Homo sapiens: one gene and its partner. The protein of the gene in region 1 interacts with the protein of each later gene in a biochemical or structural test. Each region holds a gene or a part of one and is shown on either strand. Other genes may lie near its edges. The genes, in order: ADD2 and RPH3A.

Region 1 (10,616 bases):
CTTAAGCCCCTCAATCACACATGATAAGAGTAAATAGTTAATAGCACTTGCTATATACCAAGCCCTGTTTTAAATACTCCACATACATTAACTTCACTAATCCTCACAAGTACGTTTCAAGGTAGTTAATTTACTACAGTCCCCATTTTATATGTGGGGAAACGGAGGCACAGAGCAGTTAACTAGCTCAAGATTACACAGATAATAAGTGGCACAGCTGAGATTTGAACCCAGGTAGTCTTGTTCCAGAGTCTGTGCTTTTAATCGCTAAGCCATTCTGCACATAACTTTTTGGAGACAGAAGGAAGGAGCACAAGAGGATGCCTGTGATTCACAAAGCCAAAGGGTTGGCTCAGGCCCCTGCTGTGATGGTGATGGAGTCAGGGCTTCCATGTCCTACACCACCCCCATCGGAGTACCTCTGGAGCAACCCTCTGGGGCAGGGCTCTAAGAAGGGAAGGCAGGCCCTGGGGCATAGCGGTGTGAGCTCCTGTCCATCAGGCCCAGAGCTTCTTGGTTCTTTGTACTTCAGGGAGGGCAGAGCTACTTCACAGCCTTCACAGATCAGTTACTGGGGAATGCAACCACTCCATGGGGAAGGGGAGAGGGTCAACCTTTTCCTGCCTGGAAGGCTCAGTACAAGGCTGTGCTGGCCAAAATGATCCCAGTCCCAGAGAAGCTGAGAGTTCAGTTGGCTTAGAGCCTGGAGTCCTAGGGAGCACAGGGGGCTCACATGCCTATGCTCACATCCAGTGTACTCACTGGGGAAGGGGAGTTGCTTGTTGCTGTTTTAAAAATAATATAAAAGGTTCAGGGCTTTGAAAGTGCCAAAGAGAATTAATTTACTATGATGAGTCACTAAACAGAGAAGGAGTGGGGTTCGATGAGGTGATGTCTCTGGAAGAATTTTGTTCTGCCGTGCTGCCTGCCCAGAAGAATCTGAGTGGGGGCCACATGTCTGTGTGGCTCTGATGCAGTTCTATTATGTTTGACTTTGTCATCCCTTCTTATCCTCAAGGTCCAGGGATGAGGTTGGGTGTGAGCATGATAGAGGTGAAATATTCTTAACTAACGCCATGCACGTGGGACTGACTGGAATCCACAAGGCCAATGTGTGTTCTTTGCAGATGTTTCTCTTTTGGCATCTGACTTGTGGGAGAGGCTCTGGGGGAAAGCGGGAAGATCTCTTGCTCCAGGAAACCCAGATCCTCCATGCTTCCGCCTTTATTACACGAATGTATCTGTCTCCAACTCAGATAAATCATAGAGTGTCAGAGCTAGAAGGGACCCCAGAGGTCATTTGGTTCATTTTCTGATTTAGAGCTGGGCAAAGTGAGACCCAGAGAGAGGCAATGACTTGCCCAAGCCCATGCAGCTACTGAGTGACAGATAGGGGCAAGATTGCAGGTCCCTGACTTCTAGTCTAGAGCTCAGTCCACCAGCAACATCCCTGACTCACTCTTTTTCCATTCAGATGAAAGGAAAGGGTCTGGATTTAAATGTTGCCAAGTATGACCACAACCATTCTAGCAGCCTGCCAAATCTGTTTCAAAATCTTTCTTTACAGAATCTTTTTTTTTTTTTTTGGCTCCCACTCCCAGCAGACCCCTTCCCCTACCTCCGACCCTTCATCTCCGTCCCCTATTATCAAATATTTTGTCAACACCGCTGGTAAGTGTGGTGCTGGTTGGGGGAGATCAGGTAAGGGCTTTCATAAGAAGATGACTAACTAGTGGAATGATTAAGATCATAGGTCCTGGTTTGGCAGCTTTGCAGAAGTGGGCCATGGTGGCATTTGGAGCACTCCCACTGCCTGTTAAAAGAAAAATTTTAGATGAATTAAACTTAACAGAGTTTGAGCAAAGCATGATTCAGGAACTTGGGAGCCCTCAGAATCAGAATGGTTTCTGAGTGACTCTGAGGCTGCCACATGATTGGATACATTTATGGACAGAAAAAGGAAAGTGACCTACAGAAAATGGAAGTGAGATACAGAAATGACTGGATTGGTTACAGCTTTGTATTTGCTTTATTGGAATAGTGTTTGAATAGTTGGCTACCTGTGATTGGTGGAAGCTCAGCTGCTGTGGTTGGCTGAGACTCAGCTACTTGTCACAAGAGTAGGTTACAGTCTATTACACATCAAGTTGGGTTACAGTTTATTATACGTGGAAAAGCCCTTAGGCCACACTTAAAATATGTAAGGAGGCAGCTTTAGGCCAAACTTAATGTAACATGTCCCAGGCCAAGTGTATGATAGCAGATGGTGGTTTGAACGAGGGGAGGGGCCTAGACAGCTATGGGACTTGGCCTGTGATGTGAGAGTCAGATTATGTGAGGTTTTGTGCCATCTTATGTCAGACTTGCTAGAAATGGCCAACACCTGGAATGGATGCCTTCCATTACATGTTGCAACCATTAACATCTAAACTATGGATATTTCAACCGAGGCTGCTCACTAGGGATTAGGGAGCTTTTGAAAAATCCTGATGTCCAGGTCATACCTCAGACTAATTATATTAGAATATCTGGCATCAGTACTTTTTAAAGTTCCCAGGTGATGCTATTGTGCACCCAAGGTTGAGAACCACTGCTCTAGGCTGAGGGCTCAGGCCATCAGCTGACCCTTGAGGAACTCTGTCCATGCGCCTTCCCTTGAACGAACTGTTTGCCTTTCCCCTAGAGGAAGAATGCAAACAAGAACAACAGGAAACCATCTGTGTATTCTGGGCTGATGGGATGGCCTTCCACTGTCCTCCAAGCTTATCTATGGCATCATTCTCCCCTCACCCCACCCAGAGAGACTGCAAAGGTAGTGTGTGGAGTTCTGGTAGAATGTGGAAGAAGAGGTTACAGGCAGCTCAGGGACAACAAGAATATGCTCTACTGGACATCAGCAAAGCCTCCTTTGTAATGAGCTTCTGACCAGAATCAAGGGTAGGCTGGGGCCAACAGGACTGCTGGAGCAAGGCCGGAGGGAGCCAGGACTGGCCAGCCACAGGCAAAGGGCAGATCAGGACCTGGGAGGCCAGGAGTCTTCTCCCAAAGAACAAGAGAGCATTCCATCTCCTCATGGAATGGGAGCCCATGGAGGTAAAGCAAGGGAGTGGCAGGTTATGGATGAGAACCCAGGTGTCCTGGTCCCTTGTAATGCTCTTTTATTTGTATCTTCACATATATGTTAAAAAGCTAATTATTGTTCAGCCAAAGTACATGCTGCCTTCTGCTGAGAAGAGAATCAGCCAGCAGGGAGAAGGCCAACGCTCTGTAAGGCCACCCTGGGTGTTGAAGGGGCAGAGCACCGATTTGAAGGCCTTGCAGTGCCGACACAGGAAAGGAGACGGGCTTCGCAAATTCCCACTGCCGGGAAGTGAAGCCCGGAACTGCAGGCTTACTCTTCAGAAGGGCTCCAAGATAGCAACAGAAAACATTTCTTCATTCATCATTCACACATTTTAAAAAGTATTCTTGATTAGAAAAAATCCACAGGTTTCCCCCAGCTTGACTTTCCAGAGGCTGTCGTGGTCCTTGCTCCAGGGAGCAGGTTTACACGCAGCACGTGGGGCTCTGGCAGCCGGGCAGCATGGCACCCTGCAAACCATATTTAGTTGTTGTTTCTCAACATGAGTTGAATGGGATTGGAGAGAAAATAATTTTCCATTAATAAAGTTGCACACCTCTTTTTAAACTTGGAATAAGAATCTGATTCTGCATTAAAACAAGTTTCAGAAAAACAGATTCACCAATAAATTCCTTTCCAGGGGCCAGAGCGAAGTTTAAGTTGTAAAGAAAAGCATTGGGCAAAGCGCTTCCCACGTTTCAGTAGTTCCTGTGCTCTTTTAGTAGTAGTCTTAGTAGGCCCTGTTTAATAGTAGTATTCTTTTGTGAATTTCCCACCATAATTTTTTTTTCTTTTTAGTTCTGTGATACGTGTGCAGGATGTGCAGGTTTGTTACATAGGTAAATGTGTGCCATGGTGGTTTGCTGCGCCTATCAACCCATTACCTAGGTGTTAAGCCCAGCATGCATTAGCTATTTCCACCATAATTTTTGAGGGGCCTTATTAGAGGGTTTCCATTTTAGATGAAGTACTGATTTCCAGTAAGTAGCTTACCACTGCATAGGTGTGCATCACAGAAATGCTCAACAAGGTCTGCAGGTCATGTTTCCATTCGGGGAACTCTCTACTCCAAGCCAAGTGTGACCATTTAAGGGCTGGCTAGTTGGGGAAGGGAGTGGACACCTGAACCCATGTTTTTACTTAGTCTCATGGCACAGCAGCGCCCCTATAGATGGGTATATGGGGCCGCTGCTGGCGTCCTGCCCTCCTCCCCAGGCTCTGCCTCTACCATCCTAGGAACAGCCGTACCCCACTGAGAATCCAACTGAACCTAGCCCTGTGCTCTGAGAAACGTGTACCCCGATGGGGAGCACCAACCTGACCGCATACCCTCTCCCCTTCTCTGTAGAGTTCCAGGAGCGAATTGCAAACCCACCGGGAAAATGAGCGAAGAGACGGTCCCCGAGGCTGCCTCGCCGCCGCCCCCGCAGGGGCAGCCTTACTTTGACCGCTTCTCAGAGGACGACCCCGAGTACATGCGCCTTCGCAACCGGGCGGCGGACCTGCGGCAGGACTTCAACCTGATGGAGCAGAAGAAGCGCGTCACCATGATCCTGCAGAGTCCCGTGAGTGGGGCTGACCCGGGCGGGAGAGGGCGCAGGGGGCGCTGGCTCTTCAGGACGTGTACCCACCCGAAAGATGAGTAACTCCTCTTTCCCTTGCTCAGGGTCAGTAGAAATGTAAGCCCACTGAGCAAGACGGATCTGGTCACCTGGGGCCTTGACACTCTCCCTTGTAACTGGTGGATGGCAGAACCTGGCTTGTGTGTGGCAGTTTGGCTTGGTGCGGGGGGAGGTGGGACGGAGACAGGAGTCCCCCTCAGTTTCCTGTGCCCCTTCGGAGCCTCAGTTCCCAGTCTTCCCTCCTCACCAAAAGCTATGACAGTGAACGGACAAATCCATGTAAACTAGAGACCAGCAGGGTGCCAGGAGGAGGGCTTGGGGCTCCCTTTACTGAACACCACAAAGTAAGAACTTTCTGTCGGGACAAATGAAGCTTTGACATGAATGGGATGGGGCTGAGGAGAGCCTGGAAGCCCCAGGAGGTGGGCAGAGTGGAGGGCTCAGCCGGGCTGTGGGATGGGGTGTGGGAAGGGAAGGCAAGTCGGGATCACTCACATCCCTCCTTACTTGGGGCCAGTTGGTTCCTGCCTGGCATGGACACAGCTCCTCCTTGAGGCAGGTAGTGCCTTGAGAAGGCCGAAGGGTGGGCCCTGTGGACCACTGAAGGCAGAGGGAGATCACTGTGGTGGAGGCAAGAGGGGTCTGACTGAGGAAGAGCTTGGGGGGCCTCAGGAATCAGCCCATGATCCTAAGGATCGGGAAGCCCAGGGACAGAGTTGGCATCTCCAATTGCTTGCCAGGATGGGCTCGAGATGGGAGCCGCTCTGCCTTGGCCTTCTGGGCTCCAGAGAGCCAGGGCCTGTGCAGGGGCTGTGTGAGACCCTGGCTGGGAGCCATGGTGCATACTCAGGCCACACAGAGCAGCTCCAGGGAATGGGCCGAGGTCCAATATCTGTGCCCAGATATTGTGTTGGGGAGCTGGGAGGAATATGGCAGATGCTGAAAGCATTGGGGTGAAGAGCCTCTGGGAAAACCCCCAGAGTGTGACTAGGAGGGGTGGCAAGGGGGTTAGGAGAGGCGGCAGAGTTAGCACCAGCCCAGATTTCAGGGCTCAGGCAGTAAATAGGGGTTGGAGGAGGGCCTGCTTCCTTCTTCCCTTTTACAGGTTGGCCAACACACCTAAGTGGCCCCCCATTTCCTCCTGAGTGTTTTCTCCTGCCACCTGGTGGGCAGGATTCCTTGCTTATGGCTTCATGGTCTGAAAAGCCAGGCTTAGAGTTGGACATCAGGAGTGGAAGTGACCTCAGAGGTCATCAAATCTTCCTGTTCTTCCTCCTACCCTTTCATTAAGCACATGAGGAAACTGAAGCCCGAAAGAATCACAGGCATCGCTAATGGAGAGGGATGGTGGCTCTCTCCATTCAGTTCTGCCTAAAAAAATGTCCTTCATTACTAAAGTGAAGTCCTACCATGTCTGATGGTGGGGAGGGGTCTTGGCCCTCATTTAGACACAGAAAGGACCTGGAATCTGGATTACTGCCCACAGGGCAAGGGAACACAAGATCCATTCCCAGCATTTCTTTGTTGCTTCCCATACAGCAATTCCTGAGGTCCTAGTGGAACTGCTCAGTGTCCCCTGTAGCTGGGGACCCTGAGCATGGCCCTGACCTAGCTGACCCAGGGGCAAGGGGTGGGCACTTGGAAGAGCTCATTGTTGGGCAGCTGTGTGAGAGGCTGTGGGGGGACAAGCACCTCGGGGCCTGCTTCAGTCTTTCAGGGAGGAGCTGGAAGGCCTCATCCAGGAGCAGATGAAGAAGGGGAACAACTCCTCCAACATCTGGGCCCTGCGACAGATCGCGGACTTCATGGCCAGCACCTCCCACGCAGTCTTCCCGACATCTTCCATGAGTATGTGGTGTCTGGGGAGCTGCCAGGAGCAGAGGTGGAGGGGAGGGTGGGGTGGGGAAGAGAGGGAGGAGCAGCAAGAAGCATCTGGTTGCCAGGCTATGGAGTAAGCAGCCCATTGTGTTATCAGGCCTTGGGGAGCTCAGCAGCAGCCAGAGAGGTACCTGGCTCTGCTTCTGATGTTGCTGCAAATTAAACGTCCACAGAAAAATTACCCCAATGCCAGGAATAAGAGGGTGGAGGTGACTTCAGTGGACGGGAAGAGACCACTGAAGCCTGTGTTTCCATGCCCCACTAGACAGGCCAACCTGACTCCACAGATGAGGGCTGAGAGGAGCCAGCCAGGGCTATGCAGGAAGCCACCCTCCTGGGCTGTTATGCTCTGCCCATAACGTTTAAAACACAAGCATCAAAAAATAACTCCCCCTCAATAAGATTATTACAGGATTATGGCTGAAAACTGTGAAAATAACCAAGAAAGGGAAGCAGAAATCATTCTACTGTGTTCTTAAAGCCCTCATATTACTATTCTTAATATTTTGGTGAACATATATCCTTCCAGTCCTTTTTTTCTTAACATATATAGATTATGCAAACACAAATGTAATCACATAAAATATGGTTCTATAATATAATTTTTGGTGGATACATGCTATTTAATAAATTTCCCATTGTTGGACTTTTAGGTTATTTCCAACTTTTTCTGTTAGGAACAATGCAATAAACATCCTTGTAAATAAACCTGAGATTATATCCGTGATTATTTTCTTAAGATAAATTACTAGTAGAATTGCTGAATTGAAGTACATGCATGCATGTTTTAAAGACTTTAATGCAGAATGGCAGATTACATCCTTTCTCCAAATGGATCCAATTTACGTTCCCAACAGTAATGCGGTAGAGTGCCCATTTCCTCTACCCTGGTCCATAGTGTATACTACCATTTGTTTCATCCTCCTGATTCAGTAGGTGACAAATAATACTTTATTTGTGTTTTAATGTGCATTTGTTTGACTACTGATGAGGTTGGATATATTAATGTATTTTCACATACATATTGGACATGATTTTCTTCCTTTCTCTCTCTCTTTCTCTTTCTCTCTTTCTCTTTCTTTCGTTTTCTTTTCTTCTTCCTTTCCTTTCCTTTTTCTTTTCTTTCTTTTCTTTTCTTCTTCCTTTCCTTTTTCTTTTCTTTCCTTTCTTTCACGCAGAATCTCACTCTGTTGCCCAGGCTAGAGTGTAGTGGTGCAATCTCAGCCCACTGCAACCTTCCAGGCTCAAGCAATCCTCCCACTTCAGCCTGCCAAGTAGCTGGGACCACGGGCACGCACCACATGCCTGGCTAATTTTTGTATTTTTTGTGGAGACAGGGTTTCACCATGTTGCCCAGGCTGGTTTGGCACTTCTGGGTTCAAGTGATCCACCCACCCCGGTCTCCCAAAGTGTTAGCATTACAGACGTGAGCCACCGTGCCCGCCCCTGACTTTCTTTTTATAGTAAATTGCCTTTTTACATCCTTTGCCTATTTTCCTATTAGTGTATTATTTTCTTATAGATTTTTACATTTTTATAAAGTAAAGCTGTTTCTCTATTATCTGTCAAATATATTGCTTTTTTTTTTTCCAGTTTCTCCTTTGTCTTTTAGTTTTGTCCATGGCATTTTTTTTGTCTTGTAGAATTCTTTAGTTTCTGTGTAGCGGAAACCATTGTAATTTTCCTTTGTGTGTTCTGCTTTTGATTGCATGCTTAGAAATACCTTTCCCATGTTTCATCATCTGATGGAACAAATACCCTTAATTATGCATTTGTCAATTTTCCTCAACTGTTTGTACAAGTTTATTCTTTACAATAACTTTAGGCCAGGCACAATGGTTCATGCCTGTAATCCCAGCACTTTGGGAGGCCAAAGCAGGTGGATCACCTGAGGTCAGGAGTTTGAGACCAGCCCGGCCAACATGGTGACACCCTGTCTCTACTAAAAATATAAAAATTAGCCAGGCATGGTGTTGCATGCCTGTAATCCCAGCTACTTGGGAGGCTGAGGTGGGAGAATTGTTTGAACCCTAGAGGTGGAGGTTGCAGTGAGCTGAGATTGCACCACTGCACTCCAGTCTGAGTGACAGAGCAAGATTCCATCTCAAAAAAGCAAAAACAAAAATCAAACTTTAGAATTATTTTATCAAGTCCCCCCATTGACCTTAAAAATTCCTTTTGGGATTTTGATTGGGATTACATTAAACGAATAAATTGATTTGGTGAAGAATTTATAAATTTATAATTTTATATTAGAATGTAAGCTCTGTAGGGGAAATTTGTAAGTTTGGTCCACTGCTATATCCTTTGATTTAGAATGTATCTGGCACATAGTAGGTACTTAAAGATATTTACATGAGTGAATTGTAAATCTTTTCAGAAATGAGATATGTCTTTTATTTATTTAAGTCTTCTTTCATATCCATCAGAGAAGTTTAGTAATTATTTTCATGTAGTTCTTACTAATTTCTTATGAAGTTTACTCTGAAATTTTTAAATAACTTTGTTATTTTAAGTGAATCTTTATCCATTCTATTTTCTTTCTGGTTATAGTTCTCATTTAAGATAAATTGTTAGATATATATATACATATAAGTGTGTGTGTGCATGTGTGTATACACTAGCCCCTTATTGAACTCTTATTTAAATTTTAATATCATCTCAGTTAATTCTTTTGGGTATTGTATATACAAAAATCACATAATCTGCAAATCATGATCATTTTGCTTCCTTCATTTCAACATTTACCCATTGGTTTATTTTTCCAGTTTTCTCATTGCATCTGTTAGAACTTTCAGAACAATGTTTAATAATAGATTAATTATCCTTGTCTTATTTCTGACTTTAATGGAAGTTGTTTTACCACAAGAGTTTGAGACAATTATTTTTTATCGTGTTGAGGAAATATCTTTTTATTCTAGTTCACTATGAGTTTTTCTCAGGAATGGATGTTGAATGTCATAAAATACATTTTGGCCATTTATTGGTTTTTTTTTCCCTTGAACTATTGAGGTGATGAGTTTTAGTAACAGATTTCTGAGTATTGAACTCCTTTTTCATTACTGAAATAAATCATTCTTGGTCTTGATGCATTCTTTTAAAAATACCCTTCTGGATTTGATTTTCCAGAATTTTATTAAAGATTTTTGCATTCATATTCACACATGAGATTGGTTAGCAGTTCACTTTTTGGGCAGTCTTTACCTAGTATTGATACCATGACTGTAATTTCATAACATGAATCAAGGTGATTTCTCTCTCTTTTTTACCCTGATATAGTTTAAATAAGATAGGAAATCTCTGTTCCTTGAGATTTATTATTCACTTAGAATGTCATCTAGATCTGGAATATTTTTAGGGATTTTTGATGTTTTTGTCCTCAGTTTCATCTGGGGTTTTAAAATTTATTTTGCTGCTTCTTGGTTAAATTTTCGTCATATATTTTGTGTAAAATAAACCATTTTATGGAGTTTTTCAAAATTATGAGTCATTTACAATATTATTTTTATCATTCAAATTTCCTGCTAAAGTAGATGAGATAACATCCCATTCTCATTCCTGGTGCTATGTAAATTTTTGCTTTCTCTTTATTGACCAATCTAGATATTTGTTTATTCATAGATCATCTCACATAAGCCAATTCTTGGATTTACTTATTGGTCCTGTTATTCTTTCTGCTTCCTGATTCATTAGTTTTATTTCTATATTCATTAATCCTTTTCCATAACTTTTCTATTTTGTTATTTATGTATTTTCTAGAGCAGCATAAAATGTATTTATTTTTATACTGAATTCAATAATAAAGACATTTAAGGCTATAAATTTTTTTCTATGAGTATATGTTTGGCCTTATCTCAGGAATTTGACACATAGTAATTATTTTATTGTTAATTTCTAAATAGCTTGCAGTTGCTGTTTGGACTTTATTTTTCTTCTAAGAGCTATCTAGGAGTGTTTTCTTATTTCCAAGTGGTTGAATGCTTAGTCTTTTAAAG
Region 2 (11,281 bases), on another chromosome or scaffold:
GGTGCATGCCTCTAATCCCAGCTACTTGGGAGGCTGAGGCAGGAGAATCACTTGAACCCAGGAGGCGGAGTTTGCAGTGAGCCGAGATTGCGCCATTGAACTCCAGCCTGGACAACAAAAGCGAAACTCCCATCTCAAAAAAGAAAAAAAAAAAAAAGATACAGCTGCATGGTGGTTGGCAGAGCATAGTTAGGCAAACCTAGCATACCCAGAGGAATGATTTCAGGACTGACTGATTTTCAGATTTCAGGGCAGATAATGCTATGGAGGTGATGGAAATGACATTAAGTCACTGCTGTAAGTGGGAATATAATAATTTTCTAATGTGCTTTAAAGTAAAAATGTAACATCTAAACACTGAAAAAATAAACATCCTTAGAATACCTAACTTCATCTTTTGGATCTCAGCACAATGTGTATCACTCATTGGAAGATACCTCTCTTCCATGATAAATAATAATCACAATGGCCATGATAATGAATAAAGATGACAGACATGGGGCTGCCTATGTGCCGGGCTCTGCTCTAAGTGCTTTAACGTATGTTAGCTAATGTGATCCTAACAACAACCATATAAGGAAGTGCTATCATTTGCTTTGCAGACAGAGAACCTGAGGCAAAGGGAGGTTTAGTAACTTCCTCAAGGTCACACAGTTTGCATGTGGTAGAGTCAGATTTGAACACTGGCAGCCTAGCTCTAGAACCTGGCCTCTTAACAATTTCATTATGCCGTCTCTGCTGTTGCTGTCCTTTTCCTCTTACTTATGGTCACTTTGGGCTGGACGTTTTCACTGCATTCCTTGAGGATAGGAGTCTGGATAAGCACACAGTAGAAACTTAGTAAATGGTAGCTGTTATTCATCATTTAGAGTATACGAAACTCATTGCTATTCATTAGCTCAGTGAAACATCCTGGCTGCTTCAGGAGATGAGCGGGGAAGGTATGGTGGTCCCATTTTATAGCTGAGGAGACTGAGGTTCGGAGCATGCCAGTGACATGCCAAGGTCCCAAACTGGGAAGTAGGGAGCTGAAATCAAACTCCAAGTATCAGAGAAGGCAAGTCCAAGTTCCCTTCCCCTGGCAGAGCCTTGCCTGGTAACGTGGAATTGACTGATTAATAAATAAAACTTGTTGACTTGTCTTGAAAGCTTGCTTCGCCAAGTCCTACTGTGTCTTTTCCTAAGGAGGTTAGTGGGCTTCCCCACGACTGCCCTTTTCCTTGTGGGAAGGGATTTGTCAGTGCACATAGGCCGATCTCAGGGACCCAGCAATCCTTTCTCTCTCTGTCTCGTGTTCTTTCTCTTTCTCTTGCACGCCAATCTCTCTGTTTCGTTTACTTGTTCTATCTTTGACCGATTCCCTGTGATGAGTTGTGCTCCTGGAAAGCTGCCCTGTGACATTTCTTCCCTTTTGTGTCCCTGACAGTAGCATTTCCCTGGAGGCTCTTAAAGGAGAAGGAGGAGGGAGTGAGGAAGGCATGGACGCCCTAGCAGTGTCATCCAGCGACAAAGCCCAGTGTTCAGGCTAAAGCTTTGAGCATGTTTCCTTTCTCTTGTAGGGCACACACATGGTATTGTTCAGAACAGGTTGTAGTATGATTGAAGCACTGGGTTCTTTGTCTAAGAGGGAGCTCAGTCATGATTCCTAAAGCCGATTTGCTATGGGCTTCTTAATGTAGGGTCCCCTGGCAGACTTGCTATATTGGTTTCCTATGCTGCTGTAACAAATAACCACAAACTCTGTGGCTGAAGACAACATAGATTAATTATCTTACAGTCCTGGAGGTCAGAATTCCTTTAACCAAGGTGTCAGCAGTGGGGTTGTGTTCCTTCTGGAGGCTCTCAGGGAGACTCTTTTCCTCACCTTTTCCATTTTCTAGAGCCTGCCCACATTCCTTACCTGGTAGCTTCTTCCACCATCTTCAAGACCAGTAACAAAGCATCTTCATACCTCTCCCTACCTCTCTTTCTCTCTCTCCCCCTATACTTCCATCCACACCTTTCCTCTCTGACTCTGGCCCTCCAGCCTCCCTCCTATAAGGACCCTTGTGATTACATTGGATTCACCCAAATAGCCCAGGATAATCTCCCCACCTCAAGATCCTCAACTTCATCACACTTGCAAAGTCCCACTTGCCACTTAAGGTAATCTATTAACCCCTTTTGGGGATGAAAATGTGGACATCTTTTGGGGCCATTATTTTGCCTACCACACTTGCTAAGTGAAATGGGCTATCTCAGTGCCCATTTCCTTGGGAGACAGAAAAGCACAGAGGACCTTGAGATAAACTGTTCAGATTCACACCCCATTCTCCCCCTCTTCCTGGCTGTGTTATCTTGGGCAAGTCACTTGAGCTCTCCATGTCTGATTTCCTCATCTTGAAAATGGGTAAATAGCACAACACAACCTCCTTTCACTGTTGTCAGTCATGAATAGTGCTGGGGAGATAAAGCATGGCACCTGGTAAATAGTAAGCACCTGCCCCCTGCAAAAGGAGAGATGATTAGGAATTAGGAATGCCAGATAGCATAATGATCATAAATTCACAGGGTCTTGGTTCAAATTCCAGTCTCACCACTTATGAACTCAATGGCCTCAGGCTAGTTGCTTTAGGAGTCTCAGTTTCATAGAACAGAAATGAAACCATTATCATCCTGAAATGGGATTGTTGGGAGGATGAGATGATGCCGCTGCACATATACAAATTGTGCAGGAGGTAGTGGGTAGCATTTGTTGCTGTAGCTATTACTACCTTCATCATTTCCCATCCTCTTTGGGGTGATGGAAAGTCTTACTGGGCTGCCTCTGCTCCATAAAACAAGGGTAGAGCAAGGCAGCTTGCTGAATTGCGGCCTGAGGAATCTTCGCAATGTTCTATCATTGAATGAAGCCTCGAGAGAGTCAGACCCTGGCCGGGCTCAGCCTTGAGAAGTCTGGGTTTTGAGGTGTCTCCCTGCTGCAGTGCCACAGGCTGGTGGAGTTTACAGCAGCAGCTGGTTCTTTGAACAAAGGGTTCTCCAGAAGCACCCGGGACAGAAGAGGGGTTTGGCAGTGGTGACCAGGGAGGTGGGCAGGATGGGGCAAGGTCCCCTGACAAGACAAGGCTAGTTCCTAGATGGCATGGTGACCAGAGAGGGTGGAGAGCTCAGGTTTCAACCATATTATTATTTTTTAATTTTGGTGCAAAATCCTTGTTTCAATGAAGGCTTGGGCAGATGCCCAGTATGCAAAACAGTTAAAAGCACCACTAACTGTTCTAGTTGAAACCAGAGTGGAGGGTCAGTTGAGGCCTCTTTTCATTTCCACAGGGGCCTCTAGGGGGCCTGGTTTAGGAAAAACTGACAGGGTCATGAAAACACAGGCTTTGGAGTCAGACAGACCTGAGATTTGCATCCCTGCCTCTGCTGCTCCCTGGTTGTGTGAGTTTGGGGGCTTCACATCATCTGTCTGCTTCTTGTCTGCAAATGGGGCAGTAATAGCACCCACTTCAGGTAGCTGTGAAGTGTGGGGATAATCACTGTAAAGTGCTTAGTACAATGCGTGACACATGGCAAGTGTCTAGGTATGCAGCAGGTGGTAGCTATTGTCATTCCCTAAGGGAGAGCTGAATTCATGAGAGGCCCTCCCAGAATACATGCCTAATGGCTGGGGAAGCTGTGAGAAATTCTTTGGGATTGGAAGCCAAGAGGCCTGGGAACTACTTGGGTTCTGATTCCACCACCAGCATCCTAAATGACTTTCATTTCTCCCTGGGCTTCTTGAATCACTCTTCAAATGTTTATTGAGGCAGCCAGGTGTGGTGGCTCACACCTGTAATCCCAGCACTTTGGGAGGTCGACGTGGGCAGGTCGCTTGAGGTCAGGAGTTCGAGACCAGCCTGACCAACATGGCGAAACCCCGTCTCTACTAAAAATACAAAAATTAGCCAGGCGTGGGGCGCATACCTGTAGTCCCAGCTATTTGCATGGTTGAGGCATGAGAACGTCTTGAATCCAGGAGGTGGAGGTTGCGGTTAGGCGAGATCTCACCACTGCACTCCAGCCTGTGTGACAGAGCAAGACTCTGTCTCAAATAAAACAAACGATATTGTTTATTGAGGGTTTCCTATGTGCCTGGGACTGCCCTAGGCAATAGACCACAGGTCCTGGCATCTGAAAGGCTTGCATTCTATACTCAACTCTGCTACTTCCTAGCTCTTTGATTATGGACAAGTCAATTCTCGTCTCTGGTCCCGAGTTTCTCCATCTGTAAATTGAGGACACTGAATTTATGTCACAGGATCATCCCAGAAAATATTCGATGAAAATTTTCCCCTCAAACTTGTAGAATGCATTTGAAATGAACTCTGAGAGACATCCTGGAGCATGTTCTTTGGAATCATACGACACTGAGTTTGAATGCTGTGTCTGTAACTTACTGTGAAGCCTTGAGCAAGGAATTTTATTTCTTGAGTCTAAGTTTTCTCATTTGCAAGATGGGAATAATACTAGTGTCCTGAAAGGGTCATGGTGAGGACTTCAGAAGATGATACATGTAAAGTTCCTAGCAGAAGAGCTGGCACATAGTAGGTTTTCAATAGCAGCCATCATTGCCACCACCACCACCACCACCATAATCATCACCATCAACATCATCAGCATAATCATTGTCAATCAACACCATCACTATAATCATCACTATGATTACCATCATGATGACAATTACTACCACCACCACCACCACCACCACTGAGGCAGGTGGTTCATTTGAGGCGAGGAGTTCAAGACCAGCTGGGGCAATATAGTGAGACCCATCTCTGCAAAAAAAAAAAAAAAAAAAAAATTAGCAGGGTATATTCGTGTGCACCTTGAGTCCTAGCTACTGGACAGGCTGGGGTGGGAGGATCACTTAAGCCCAGGAGTTCAAGGTTTCAGTGAGCTATGATTGCACCACTGCGCTCCAGCTTGGGTGACAGAGTGAGACACTGTCTTTTTCTTTTTTTTTTTGAGATGGAGTTTCACTCTCGTTGCCCAGGTTGGAGTGTAATGGTGCAACCTCGGCTCACTGCAGCCTCTGCCTTCCAGGTTCATGTGATTCTCCTGCCTCCACCTCCCGAGTAGCTGGGATTACAGGTGCACACCACCATGCCCAGCTATTTTTTTGTATTTTTAGTAGAGATGGGGTTTCACCATGTTGGCCAGGCTGATCTCGAACTCCTGACCTTAGGTAATCCACCTGCCTCGGCCTCCCAAAGTGCTGGGATTACAGGCATGAGCCACCGCGCCTGGCAGAGACACTGTCTTTAAAAAATTGTTTTTTAAATGAGCTCTAAATGTTCTCATTTTAACTCCTGGGTCTCATGGGGAGAAGTAAGTGACAAATGTAGTAGTTAACCCTGGGCCATCTGGATGGGAAGCTTTAGATATGAGTCTCCAATAGAGAGAGTTCTCCTTCACTTTGCAGAGAAGTTCTAAGCAGATCTTGGTCTGTTTGAGATTTCCTGGCCTTTTTCCAATTTGAGCCCTTTCCCAAAGTTAGGAGGAATAGGACTCTTGAGATATGGAGCACTGGGAGCCATGGGAATCCATTCATCTTTATATATTTCCCCTTTTGATACTTTTATTTCATTGTCCATATAGTGAATTCACTTCAGAAAGCCAGTCTGGATCTTTCGGGGAAGGCTCTTTGGCCAAGGCTCAATGGTCTGATTTAGACCTAAAATTTCCCTTCATTCTACTCAAACCACCTGCTGAAGGGTGAGGTTGGCACATGCCATCCTAGCTGGGCTGTCAATTCCTTTATCACTCTGTCCAAACATTTGTGTTTTAGGACAGGTTATGGACCATGAAATCATGGCAGTTCACAGCTTGGGTATTCTTATTGTTGCATTTTAACCTCTTGCTTCCTATCTTTAGGAAAAATAAGGTCATTATGTTATCATTTTCACAGATGGGACTTGGAAACATTAAATGACTTTTCCAGAGTTGTAAGGGGGCTGGATCTGACTTCCAGAAAACCATCAAGTGCTTATTCAACTAAGCCACCCTGCCCCTTAGAAATTTCCATTTCTTAAGCCTCAGCTTTTCTGCTCTGAATTCTGAGAAACTCCAGGTACAGGTCAAAAATCTGCAGCAATGGGGGTGAGGACAGGTCATCTGGGCGAAACTTTGAGGGGCAAAACCACTTAGGGAGCCCCCCACACCGGTGCCAAGCTCTTGTCTGAGCAGAGAGGAGCAATGCAGGACTGGGGGCGTGTGGGAGACAGGGGCTGTGAAGTTATAGTTCCTTTGCTCTGAGAGTGAGCGACAGTATTAGAAAAAGTGTGTGGTAGGTAAGCTGTCACTGACTAGACTGTGTGATGTCGAGAAGTCCCGTCCCCCACCCCTCCGGACTCCCCCCTTCTCTGCTTTAACCATCCAATTACTTAACTTCTCTGCCTAGGGGTTCGCTTCCCACCCATCCCCTCCTCCAAGGCATCTTAGCGCTGTCCGTGGTGCTGACCGCCAATCCCCTGGTTGCCGTTTCGACCAGCTGGGATCTCTGGTGCGCCCAACCTCCCCTCCCGGCCTCCCACCTTTCTTTCTCCAGGCACCGCACACATAAATCACGGGTGGGAGGCAGGCTTGGTTCCCGCTTGGTTCCCCCTGCACTGGGAAGCTGCCGCCCCGCTTCCCTTGCTCACACAGGGCTTTGCAGTAGTGGTGGCAGCCGCGGCAGAAACTGGCTCTGGGGAAGCAATTGATTCGTCTACTGCCAGCAGCCCGGAGTTGCCTACGCGGACTGGAAAGGAAGGGAGAAGGGAGAGAGAGAGAGAGAGAGAGAGAGAGAGAGAGAGAGACTCACAGAGCTAAAACCTTCATCCATGTGGAGGACAGTCTGAGGGAGCCACTGTCCCTTGTCCACTGACTCACTGGCTGGTCCGAGTTTTCTCCGCTTCTGGCAGTGGTATTTCTTTTTGTCTTGGTCCTGCATGATTTAGGGGTAGTTGATGTGTCTGTGTGTCTACGTGTGTGCACTGGTGCTTTGATTTTATTTTGGGAAGAGTAGGAGAGTCAAATGAACAATTTTCTTTCAGGCACCTCCGCTGAGCTTTTAAACCAAGTCATTGGGACTTAGCGTCTTTCTACCCGGCAGGGAAGGGAGGAGTTGGCAAGAATTTGGCTCACCCATTCCCCCTGCAAGCCTCCAGCGTCGCGGTAAGTGATATTCTCCCGGGTTGTGCAGATGGGCTAGGGGTGTTGGAATCCCAATTGTGATGTGTGTTCATGAGCTGGTGGGGTAAAGGGTAGTTGGGAGGAGAAGGGTATCGAGGAACGACTATGCTTATTTGCCTACATCCTGCAGTGTTTTATCACCTAAGCGGCATCCCAAAGCCAAATGAGATTTTGGCTTAGTGCCCAGGGAGGGGGTAAAATGTGCTCATGTTGTAGGCAATGCGATCAAGATTGTGGCTTCTGCCCAATTTGCCCTCTCCTTTGCAGCAGAAGCTGGTGAAAGTAGCCGGCAGTTCTCTGAGAGAGTTAACCCTTCGTGGGGCTGGCTAGTCTAGCATGGAGGGACTCTGGGTACTCTGACTTAGCAAGTGAGTGCTTATCCCTGGAGGGGAGGGGGTCACCTGAGACTGGAAGGGTAACTTTTGCCTGGGCACACTGGGTAAGATTTGCACAGGACAGAGCTTAGATTGTACCCTCTTCTAGGAACAGCTGAGTAATTTAATTGTGGTGATTTTTGCGAGGTTGGCTGTTCACGCTTTCCTGAGATGGAAGACCTGGGAGCCAGGAAAGGGCCACACTATGCCTGGGATGAGTGGTCAGGCTGGCCAGAAGGGAGCAGCCACTGCCTGCAGAGGAGATGATGTTTTATTTTCACAGGTGGCGTAACCTGTAAGTGATTGTATGGGGGAGCGTCCTGGCACTAGCTTGGGAGATTCTATCCTTGAGTTCATCTCAGAAGGAAGGAGGGGAACAAAGCTTGTTCAAATTCTGGGGAAAGATTCCAGGCTTCAGCTTCAGTTTTGTTCCAGGGTAGACCGTCCCCCTGCACTAGTTTCTTTTTCCAAGATCCTGATGGGGAAAGGCTGCACCAACCTGTTAGTGAGTGGGAAGTGGAAGTACCTTGAAATTGAATCCAAAAGCTCACATTTAATTTTGAAATGCTTTTGATGCTAATCTGCTACCCATCAAAAGGGGATTTCACTTTGCTTTCTGCTTTGATTACATCTACTTTTCTGGAAATGAATGCCCTTGTTTTTAGCATTTTTGCTATTATCTCAGGGGCCACCTCAGTGTTCTGCACCCCCAAGGATTTCCTTTTTAGATTCTTGCTCTTGGAGGTGGGAGGAATAAAACAACAGTCAGAGATTGGCAAGCCTGAAATATAAGCAGGGTTCACTCATTCTTTTTTTCTCTAGCCCCATAGCTAAGAAGAGATGCTGAAATCCCACAGCATGTGCCTGCTCAGGCAGGACATATGAGGCAGAAGAGGAGGGTTGTCTGGTGGTTAGTGTCAAAGATTTGGTTCTCAAAATCCCTAACTTCTCTTCCTAGCTTCTCTTGCTGGGTGACCTTGAGGAGGAAGTTGCCTTAGATTCCTCACTGGGAAGACTTGAGTGTGAATAATGAATGTGTGGAAATTTTGTTCAAAAAAAGAACCACATATCTGGCTATGGGTGATATTTAAAGTATTGAAATTTGGTACTAATCGATCAGAATGGCTAGGGTCCTGGAATAGGGCATCTTAGGGGGCCCCTGCTGTACTGAGTGTTAATCTTTTAATTGCTGGATTATGGAGAGGTTTGGGGGGATCTTAGGGGGCTATCAAGAGAGCCACGAGGCCTCAGGGCAGCATCCCCATTTAATTTTAATATTTATATTTTATTTTAATATTTTTAACAACTGGTTTAGCCATGCAGTACAGGCCAGCCCAGCTGGGATAGCTAATACTTGGGTGTCCAGATGTGGACACTTCCCAAATATCTCTCCACTGGGTCACTTCCTTAGGGATGGCCAAGATCCAAGAGGCCGCCCTCCCTCCTCCCCCATCACATTTGAAGTGGTGCATTGTGGTGCACCAGGGAAAGGGAAAGAGAAGCTTCTGGAAAGAGCCTTGGACTTGGGTCAGGAGACCTGGGTTCCAGTCCCAGCTGTCTCCCCTTTCTGGGCCTCAGCTTCCCCATCTATGCAATGGGGCAGTCTGTCTGGGTGGCCCTAAGTCCCCTTCAAGTTCTGGGGTTCTCTGACTATGAGATAGGTATGTGTGTGAGTGTGAGTGACTGCACATGCCCACATTTCTAGGAAGGGTTAGCACTGTGCTTGAGAATTTATCCTGTGTCGGGGAGAGGCCCTGTTTGGGGTGATTGGGGATAGGGGAGTCTCTTGTGAGAACTTTGCTAGGTTTCTAGAATCCTGAGCTCAGCTGGAAAGGGGTCTGCTTTATTTATGGCCTCAGATGCACAGAGATGTAGATTTTGCAGCACTTGAAGGCTCCAAAGAGACTCTTCTCAGGAGTAGCAGCAAGGACTCCTTGGAGAGGCTCTGCTCTGAAAAGATGCATATACACACAAACACACAACATCAGGGGGTTAGTGGATCCTCAATAATGCCCATGTGAGCACCCCCCCAAGTTCAGGACCTCTGATTTAGTCTAACCCTTTCCAGGGGGGCCCAGAGAGGAAAAACAATTTGCCCAAGACCACACAGTAAGTTATGGCAGCAACATATAAACCCACCATTATGAAGACCAAGGCATCATCCCCTCACTCCTGGCTCCAGCAGCCCCTACTCCCCCAGTCCAGCCTGAGGTACAGAGGAAGGATGTTCAGCAGTGTCTCTCCAGCCCGTGCTGGTAATCAGGAAGCTTAGCCATGGAGACAAATGTGGACATTTCCTTTCTTGTTGGCAGGAGAGAGGCAGCAGACAGAGATTCTGTGATTCCACAGGGGTAGCCTGGAAAGTCAGTGCCCCCAGCCTACTCTGCCTTTCTCCTTCTTATTGCTCCGTACACAGACTGGCTGCTTTGTCTGAAGATGTGCATTTGGTTGGGGTGGCTGCTCTTGGGCTTTCTTTGTAGGCTGTGACATTATGCTTTAACTCTTTCCCTCTCTGTGAATGGGTCCTACAGAGTTTATGGCTTTCCAATAAAAACCACCATGACACATGGACCTGTCTTCTGCCCTTCACCCTCATTCAGTGGGGAGCTGATTGTAATTGCAGATAAGCCAGGAATTGATGTGAAGCCAATGAGAAGAAAACAGTGTGGTTTATTTCTGTTAAGAGCTGTGGCCATAATCTGGGATAAAAATAATTCTGGGACCCAGTCATGGTGGGCTGAAGCTGATGATTTTAAATAATTCAGCTGCCACCCAGGATGGAGAGCCTTGATGTGCTGAAAGAGTGAAGGAGGTACTGCAGAAATAGCCCCCTTCTTTCTGTGCCTCACACCTATCTACCTTCTTAACCAGCCAGGGGCTGCAGTGTGGGCTCTGGGGGCGGTCAGATCTTAGTTCTAATTTTGACTCTGGCATTTCCTTGCTGTGTGACTTCAGACAAGGCCCTTAATCTCTCTGAGCCTCAGTTTCTTCAATTAGGTGTATTAGGGTAGCATGATATAGGGATTAAGAGGATGGGCTCTGGAAATAAATTTCTTAGGGTTAGATCTTGATCCTAGCACTTTCTGATTGTGTCACTTCACCTCTCTGGACCTCAATTTTCCCATCTACAAAATGGGAATAAGAATGCAGTTGTGAGAATTTTAAGAGTTAATGATCACTTTATACTGAGTCTGGCAAGGAGTAAATATCCAACAAATGTTCGCAATCGGGGCGATGTTGGTGATGGTAACAGTGAAATCACCCCTGACCAAAACAAAAGTAGGGTGAGGTAGAGGAAGGTGAGTTCTTTGGGCTAGTTGTGTAGCTGTATGACTCACAAGAGGGAGGACAAAGCTTGGAGACAGGAGCTGCCAGCCCCTCTTGTTCCCCACTGCAGTTCCCCAGTTGCTGCAGGTCCCCATAACTCAGTTTCTTCATCTGTGAAATGGGCAAAATGACTCCCTCTCTGTTTGGCTTGTGAGGCTCTAAGCAACTAGCAGGGGAGTCATGAGCCTGGGGGGTAGGCCCCAGAGAAGAATTCTAGGAGGAGAAGCACTGGTGACCACTCAGTCTTTTGTTCCTTCAAGTCCCTGGGAGGTTTTTGCTGAATCATCCCAGGCTATAAGCTCTGAGCCGTGTATTTTCTCTAGGAAACCTGAGCCTTCCTTCCCTTCCCTGGGAAATGCCTATGGCACTTCTTTGTAGGAGTCCTC

The links.
Region 2: the proteins of ADD2 (region 1) and RPH3A form a complex in vitro, tested with the Homo sapiens proteins (one study listed by BioGRID).

The regions. Positions count from the first base shown.
Region 1 is NC_000002.12:70,700,296-70,710,911, reverse strand, and holds part of ADD2 (beta-adducin), read left to right. Parts: intron 1-4,469; coding exon of another isoform or gene 4,470-4,503; coding exon 4,504-4,686; intron 4,687-6,452; coding exon 6,453-6,591; intron 6,592-10,616. UniProt on the Homo sapiens protein: Membrane-cytoskeleton-associated protein that promotes the assembly of the spectrin-actin network. Binds to the erythrocyte membrane receptor SLC2A1/GLUT1 and may therefore provide a link between the spectrin cytoskeleton to the plasma membrane.
Region 2 is NC_000012.12:112,785,088-112,796,368, forward strand, and holds the start of RPH3A (rabphilin-3A), read left to right. Parts: upstream 1-6,660; 5' UTR 6,661-6,925; intron 6,926-7,055; 5' UTR 7,056-7,176; intron 7,177-11,281. UniProt on the Homo sapiens protein: Plays an essential role in docking and fusion steps of regulated exocytosis.